2 linked regions of the Homo sapiens genome follow. The protein of the gene in region 1 purifies or fractionates together with the protein of each later gene. This does not show direct contact. Each region holds a gene or a part of one and is shown on either strand. Other genes may lie near its edges.

Region 1 (3,827 bases):
AGTGGGGAAGAAGGTCCTGCTCTCACGATTCCCCCAAATTCTCAACAAGCTAACCACCACATACACACATACATGCACAATCACTCTTCCTGTCTACACAGCTAACCTCTTTCCTACCCAGAGTATTTGCTACACATTTGTAATGCCTTTCCCTCTATTCTTTTTTTTTTTTTTTTTTTTACAGTCTGGCTCTGTTGCCCGGGCTGGAGTGCAATGCTGAGATCTCAGCTCACTGCCACCTCCTCCTTCTGGGTTCAAGCGATTCTCCTGCCTCAGCCTCCCAAGTAGCTGGGATTACAGGCACGTGTCACCACGCCCAGCTAATTTTTGTATTTTTGTAGAGACGCGGTTTCGCCATGTTGGCCAGGCTGATCTCAAATTCCTGACCTCATGATTTGCCCACCTCAGCCTCCCAAAGTTCCGGGATTAGTCTTGAGCCACCATGCCTGGCCCTTTCCCTCTATTCTTGTCCAAAACTGAATTATTTAAAGAAATTCTCACTATGACCCAGAAGGTGGGATTTTACTTACATGAAAAAGGTGGTGGGTGGAAAAAGTAGGGGGTGTAATTCTTTAACTTCTTACTCATAAAGGAAAAATAATACTGATATATTTGGTAAACATTCCCTAAATCCTTGTGGTATAACTGAAGGAAAGACGGCATTACAACCCCTTGGTCTTAGAAAGTGAGAATATCCAAAGAACCAGAGACTCTCAAAATCCAATTTACTCTAATTCCTACTCTTCCATTCGCCATGTTTTCTACCGGTATTTGTGTAAAGTAATAAGGATTGGTTTCAAAAGAAAAATATATTTAACAAAAAAACAAAAAACAAAAGGAAAAGGCTAGGCATGGTGGCTCATGCCTATCATCCTGGCACTTTGGGAGGCCAAGGCAGGAGGATTACTTGAGCTCAGGAGTTTAAGACAAGCCTGGGCAACATAGTGAGACCCCCATCTCTATTTTTTAAAAAAGGAAGCCAGATGCAGTGGCTCACATCTGTAATCCCAGCACTTTGGGAGGCTAAGGTGGGCGGATCACTTGAGCTCAGGAGTTCAAGACCAGCCTGGCCAACATGGTGAAACTCTGTCTCTACCAAAAATACAAAAATTAGCCGGGCTTGGTGGTGCACACCTGTAATCCCAGCTACTTGGGAGGAGAATCACTTGAACCCAGCAGGCAGAGGTTGCAGTGAGCCGAGATCACGGTACTGCACTCCAGCCTGGGTGACACAGTGAAACTTAGTCTCAAAAAAAAAAAAAAAAGGAAAATATCTTACATTTTAAAAAGCTAATTGTATAGATAGGTATATTTTTGAACAACTTTTAAGTGAACACATTAAGTATAATAGTATTTTGTGCTAGAATGCTTTTTATTTAAGGGAAAAAAACCTTTGATATGATCCCAAAGTATAGTAGGTTTACACATAAAATAATCTTTCACTAAAAATGATAGGGAATTTGCTGAAGCCCTTTGAATGGGAATCCAGTTAGATTTTTCATATGATTTTTCTGAATGTCATGATCCCATGCCATGTCTTGTAAACCAAAATCATATAGATTTGTCGAAAGCACATGAAAATTCAGCTTGGGTTTGTCCCCTTTACTTTTTTCTGTGGTAATTTTTAAAGAAAATAAAGTACTAGTAGTTTTCTATTTTGTTGCTTTATTCTATTTCTCCTTGTGTGTAACTTTAAATCATATTTTGCTTTTAAAGCAATGAAGCATTAAGATGCAGACAAAGGATAGATGATGCAGGTGGGAGCAAAATTATCAAATACTATGTTGATTCTCCCAAATAACTTATGCTCTTCTTCATTCTGCCCAAGCACTCAAGTCATTTGCATAATAAACCAAAATGGTGGCCTCTCAGGTAGCCCGTATGTACTGGAGCAATATCCTACGCCCAATGGGCATTGAAGGAAGTTTTGTACCAATAAGACTCAAAATTATTCTTATTTTCATTCAGTTCTTTCCTCAGCAATCTGGAACACCGGGTATGGCTAGTTTGAGCCTTGAGGTATGTATTGTCAGAATTTTTAACATATTAACTTTACATTGGTATATTTGTGGTACAGGAGAAATATAATCGTGTGCTTCTCAGTTTTCCTAGCCAGAAGTTTGTGGCTGTTATCCTGAGGAGTGCTAGAAAAGTTATGACATTTACTAGAGCTTTGTCTTATAATTCTACTGCAGTTTTAAACTCTCAGGTGTTTTAAGTTTTAGAACATTGTTTCTATGCAAACCAAAGCAATATTAGTATTTAATGCCTTATATATAATATGCACATTAATAAAATTACTACCTTAATTAAAATACATTGCTCCATACTCACAAATAGTTTATTTTTAATCCTGCTCCTTATACTATCTTACATGATAAAGTTCTCATGAAAAATTTTGTACCTGTACAAAATTTAATTTTTTATAAGTCTGGTAAATAACATTAACATTGTACTATGATACTTCCTGCATAAGTTGTACAGTGTATTTGTCTTATTGCAGTTCTCATGTAATATATATTCTGTTTAGAAAACTCCAGCAAAACAGAAATTTTGGTCATGTCAATGAAAAATATTGACAGTTATATATAGAAAGATATTTATAAGATTATAAATTTTTCACAAGGTCTTGTGAAATTTCCATGTGTCATGGTAAGCTGGGGGCAGTCAATACCTATTTGAGCTAGACGCTTATTTCACATGGAAGCTAATTTCGCTGAGGGTTTTTTTCTCACTTTTTAGCTTAAACTCAATCCAAAGCATTCTAAATCTCTTCCCGTGAAAAAAGTTAAATTGGCATTCTGTTGAAATGGTAGCATTCTCGATAATCTATCCAGATACTTAACATTTCTTTCAATAGTTTTTATTTTTAATATTTTGAAAGATTTATTTTATGGGAAAGAGGTAGAAGTTTTATTTGTTTGTCTTGTTTGTTTGTTTCAAATTCCTCTTCTGGCTGAACTTGTAAAGGGCAAAGTAAATTAAATGGGGAGAAAGAGTCAATGAAGCAAAGTCCTCACAATTACACTTATATTTCAATGGAATGAGCTATTTTCCCATGTTTCAATGTAACCTCCACTTAAATAATACTTTTTCTCCTTTAATTAATGATAAAAGCAACTGCATTATTTTAATAGCAATAATAATAACAATGGCAGAACCAAATTTAATATTTCCACCTTTCAGTGATGATTTGTGTCTACTTTCATTTTATTAAATTGATTCACACCAAACTTTGTGTTGATAATGTCAAATATCATGAGAAATCAGTTGTGTCAAACACAGCATATGCGATAAACAGTAACCCACTTTTTTTTCTTGATAGACAATGAGACAGTTGGGAAGTCTGCAGAGATTAAACACACTTTCTCAGGTAATCATATTTCTTATTGCAAGTATTCATGGTGGTGGTAGTGTTAATATTAGCAGCAGCATTATAATTCATCAAATTTATTTATGAATAGACAATATACTAAAGATTGGAAGAACCAAGAAGTAAATGAGAGCCTAAAACAAAATAAGATACAGTGACAGGGAAAAACAAAAACAATATTGAATTTTATTGAGTTAAGAAAAGAATCTTTTCCTGCATTATTAATTTTATTATGTGGCACAAAACACAAGTGCTTAAAAAGCTAAATCTCAAACAATTTATGCAAATATTGCAGACTAGCTCAAAACGAAATTTAAGTTCATTGAAAGGAAGAGTTCACCTACCCATTTGATTTACTTATTTTATTTTTATTTATTTATTTATTTATTTAGACAGAGTGTCGCTCTGTTGCCCAGGCTGAAGTGCAATGGCATGATCTCGGCTCACTGCAACC
Region 2 (3,827 bases), on another chromosome or scaffold:
GGCTACCACAACTTCACATGTTATTCAGTACTGTTATGTTGGTGAATGTCACAAAACTAAGTTAAACTGTCTGAGGCAAAAAAGGAAGGTTATTGAAATACATAGTTGAGGCTGGGTGTGGTGGCTCATGCCTATAAATCTCAGCACTTTGGGAGTCTGAGGTGAGCGGATTGCTTGAGCCTAGGAGTTTGAGACCAGCCTGGGCAACATAGTGAGACTCCATCTCTACAAAAAATACAAAAAATTAGCCAGGAATGGTGGTGTGCCCTTGTGGTCCCAGCTACTTGGGAGGCTGAGGTGAGATGATCGCTTGAGCCCAGGAGGTCGAGGCTACAGTGAGCTGTGATCATGCCACTGCACTCCAGCCTCAGCGACAGAGTGAGACCCTGTCTCAAAGAAAATAAATACATAGTTGAAAAGATACAGATAATTAGGTTGATCCATTTGAGATTGATTTTTTTTCCTATGCAGAAATAGTCAAATATTGGCAATTTCATTTGGTTCAACCTAATATAAAATGGAGGCTCAAACTATGTCAGGCCAATCTTGTCTTTTTTCCGTCTCCTGGCTCTGAGATGACTCCATTCTTAAACATGTTCTCCTTTGATGTAAAGCGGCTGTCAGTGGCTCTGGAGCCACCTCCTATCAGATCACATCCACTGGGAAAGAAAAAGAGTTTTTATCTTAGCTATTCCCAGCAAAAGTTTCAGTTGCATCTCAGGGTCTCTACTTAGGTCATAAACTCATTGGAGAACCAACCACTGAATCCCGGGTCATGATGTGTTCCCATGGCTTAGGCTTGGGCTGTATACTCAGTCTTTGAGATCATGTATGAAGGGGTGGAGTCCAGAGAGAAATGGGGGTAATTATTGGGAGAATGGTGAACAGAGGCTGGGATGCAAAAATAACAGGTGTTCAGTATACCTTATCAGATAAAATTGACTGACGATGTTATTTTCATTTTGTATGTGAAGACACACTTGAAAAAGCTACAGAAATTTCTCAAGAGCTGGCAGCCCTGGGGTAACTTACAGAATTGAAAGGAATAAAGTATTGGAAACATTAAGAAAAAAGACATGGTGATCTGTGCCCATGTGACCATGTTGCAACTTTAAGTTTAGAAGGAGAACAGGAGAAAGAAGGACTTTTAGAAGGTTTATTTGGATCCTAAAGTTTTCTTATTTGGAGCAGAGCTTTGTGATAGACAGGAAAGTTCTGGAAAATGAGCTGAGCGATCAGACTACAGGATCCCTTAAGTCTGGTGCAGTATTTCATTTTTCTGTGAATCTTAGGCTCCTACTCCTTTTCCAATTTACTTCACTCCAATGTTTATGTTCCTAAGAGTTTGTCTGTTTTCCAAGCACTAGTCCTTTGCTATAAGGATGGGGTAGAGAGAAAGAAGCTTAAAGAGTTTGCAGACAGGTTAAGATGCTTCTGTGGAGACAGAACACATCTTGGTGCACATCTGAGTGTCCTTAGCACTTCATCTATGGACTTCTTTCATAAATGGTAGAACACGTATCCATCACACCTTATTGGATTAATTCAGAAATGCCAGATATATGTACTCTTTGCTGATGGTTACTTTGTTGGTCTCTAATTTAAGTCTTATCTCTAATCACATTAGCTGAGAAAATGGAGACATTATCATTCTAAAAATAAGATGGTTAACTTTTATATTAGGACACTTCTGATTTAGGATAGCACTGAAATTCAGTGCAAAGAAATGTAAGTCTTTCCTAGATAATGACAGATTAGACAATTTGAAGTTTCACTTTTGGTCATTAGCCCTCAGGTCATGCCTGACCTCAAGGTTACTGGAAACAGTGAGAAATGAATGAAAGGAGGAAATGTAATTACCATTCTGTGCATTGAATAGTTGAGCCACTGTTACCATGGATACAATGGCGCATTTATTGTCCAGATCTTGAGATCCAAGTTTGTAAGCAATATCCAAGGTCTCCTTTAAATTTATGTACTATCAGCGAATAACACATGAAGATTCCTGGTAACTTTGAAAATAAGTCTTTCCTCACTGATCTACTGATTCACATTAAGTAAGAGCATGTGTACTTTTGAAGGTGTTGAGGAAACCTGAAAAAGACGAAAAGGAAAGTAGCTACACTTCTGTTATGCTGGACATTCTTGGATTCCTCTATAAAAATATTCTGTCTTATACTGTCAGTGATTTGCTTGTCACTTTGGGCCCAGTTCTTTGGTTTTTATGTCATTAACAAGGAGAAAATTTCCTGAGTAAAGGTTGAAAAAATCAAAATCGTTTATTTTTATTTTTTGAGACAAGGTCTTACTTTATCACCCAGGCCAGAGAGGGTCTCACTTTATCACTCAGGCTGGAGTGCATGGCTCCCTGCAGCCTCAACTTCCCAGGCTGAAGAGATCCTCTCCGCTTAACCCCACAAGAAGCTGGGACTACAGACACATACCAGCACTCACAGTTAATTTTTATATTTTTTGTAGAGATGAGGTTTCTCCATGTTGTTCAGGCTGGCCTCAAACCCCTGAGCTCAAGTGATCCTCCCGCCTCAGCTTCCCAAAGTGCTGGGATTATAGGCGCTAGCCACCATGCCCGGCTGAAATCATTTATTTTGTCAGGAAATTCTTAAAGTTGAATTTAAGAATGAAAGTATTTTATCAGAAATATGGCAATCCTACCCACATTTTAATCTCACTAGAAGGGGGGTGATACATGCTAGCATGTACTTCCACACTGGTTTAATTTTGATGTGGGGAAGGGTGTGGAGAATACTTTTTGTTGCAAGAAACAGAAAACCCAACTCAAAATGGCCTACACAATAAAGGGTATTTCTTGGCTTATGTGAGTAAAAAATACTGAGGCAGAGTGGGGTTCAGGCGAGGTGCAGTCAGGGCTCCAGTTCTCTTTCTTTGTGTTTTCCTTGACCCTACTCCCCCCTAAGTTTCACCTTTGTGTGCGGTCTGGCTTCCCATATGATTCTGATATGGCTGCCAGGGCAAATGGGGCTACGTGTTTCCTTGATCCTATCCAGGGGGAATCCAACTTTGAGAAGGTTTTAGTTATGTTCTCAAAAGTATTATTTCATCACAATAACTTACAGATTGTTAGAATTTCTAAGGACCCTAGACAAAGTCAGCTAGCTCCCCAAACTTGACATATCATCAAAATCACCTGAGGAACTTAAAAAAGTATAGAGATTCTTAAATCAAAACTCACCCTTACTAAAGCAGGGGTATGAAAATCTGTGTTTTTTAAAAATTTTATTTTATTTTACTTTCAGTTCTGGGATACATATGCAGAATGTGCAGGTTTGTTACATAGGTATACATGTGCCATGGTGGTTTGCTGTACCTATCAACCTTTCATCTAGGTTTTAAGGCTCACATGCATTAGGTATTTGTCCTAATGCTCTCCCTTCCCTTGGCCCCCACCCCCTGACAGGCCCCGGTGTGTGATGTTCCCCTCTCTGTGTGTGATGTTCCCCCCCCTGTGACCATGTGTTCTCATTGTTCATCTCCCACTTATGAGTGAGAACATGCGGTGTTTGGTTTTCTGTTCCTATGTTAGTTTGCTGAGAATGATGGCTTCCAGCGTCATTCATGTCCCTGCAAATGACATGAACTCATTCCTTTTTATGGCTGCATATTATTCCATGGTGCATATGTGCCACAACCAACCCAAATGCCCATCAGTGATAGACTAGATAAAGAAAATGTGGAAAATCTGTATTTTTAAAAGTTTCAAGGTGATTCTGAGGGCTGGACCAATTTTTGGGAACGTGTGATCTAGGTACCCTCTCATTTTTCAGTTTTGTAAACAGACTTAGAGGTGA

What was found.
Region 2: the proteins of AMBN (region 1) and LRP2 purify together in Homo sapiens (affinity purification with mass spectrometry; 2 studies listed by BioGRID and IntAct, with this or other methods). This does not show direct contact.

Annotation. Positions count from the first base shown.
Region 1 is NC_000004.12:70,595,031-70,598,857, forward strand, and holds part of AMBN (ameloblastin precursor), read left to right. Parts: intron 1-1,968; coding exon 1,969-2,019; intron 2,020-3,325; coding exon 3,326-3,373; intron 3,374-3,827. UniProt on the Homo sapiens protein: Involved in the mineralization and structural organization of enamel.
Region 2 is NC_000002.12:169,352,475-169,356,301, reverse strand, and holds part of LRP2 (low-density lipoprotein receptor-related protein 2 precursor), read left to right. Parts: intron 1-3,827. UniProt on the Homo sapiens protein: Multiligand endocytic receptor. Acts together with CUBN to mediate endocytosis of high-density lipoproteins. Mediates receptor-mediated uptake of polybasic drugs such as aprotinin, aminoglycosides and polymyxin B.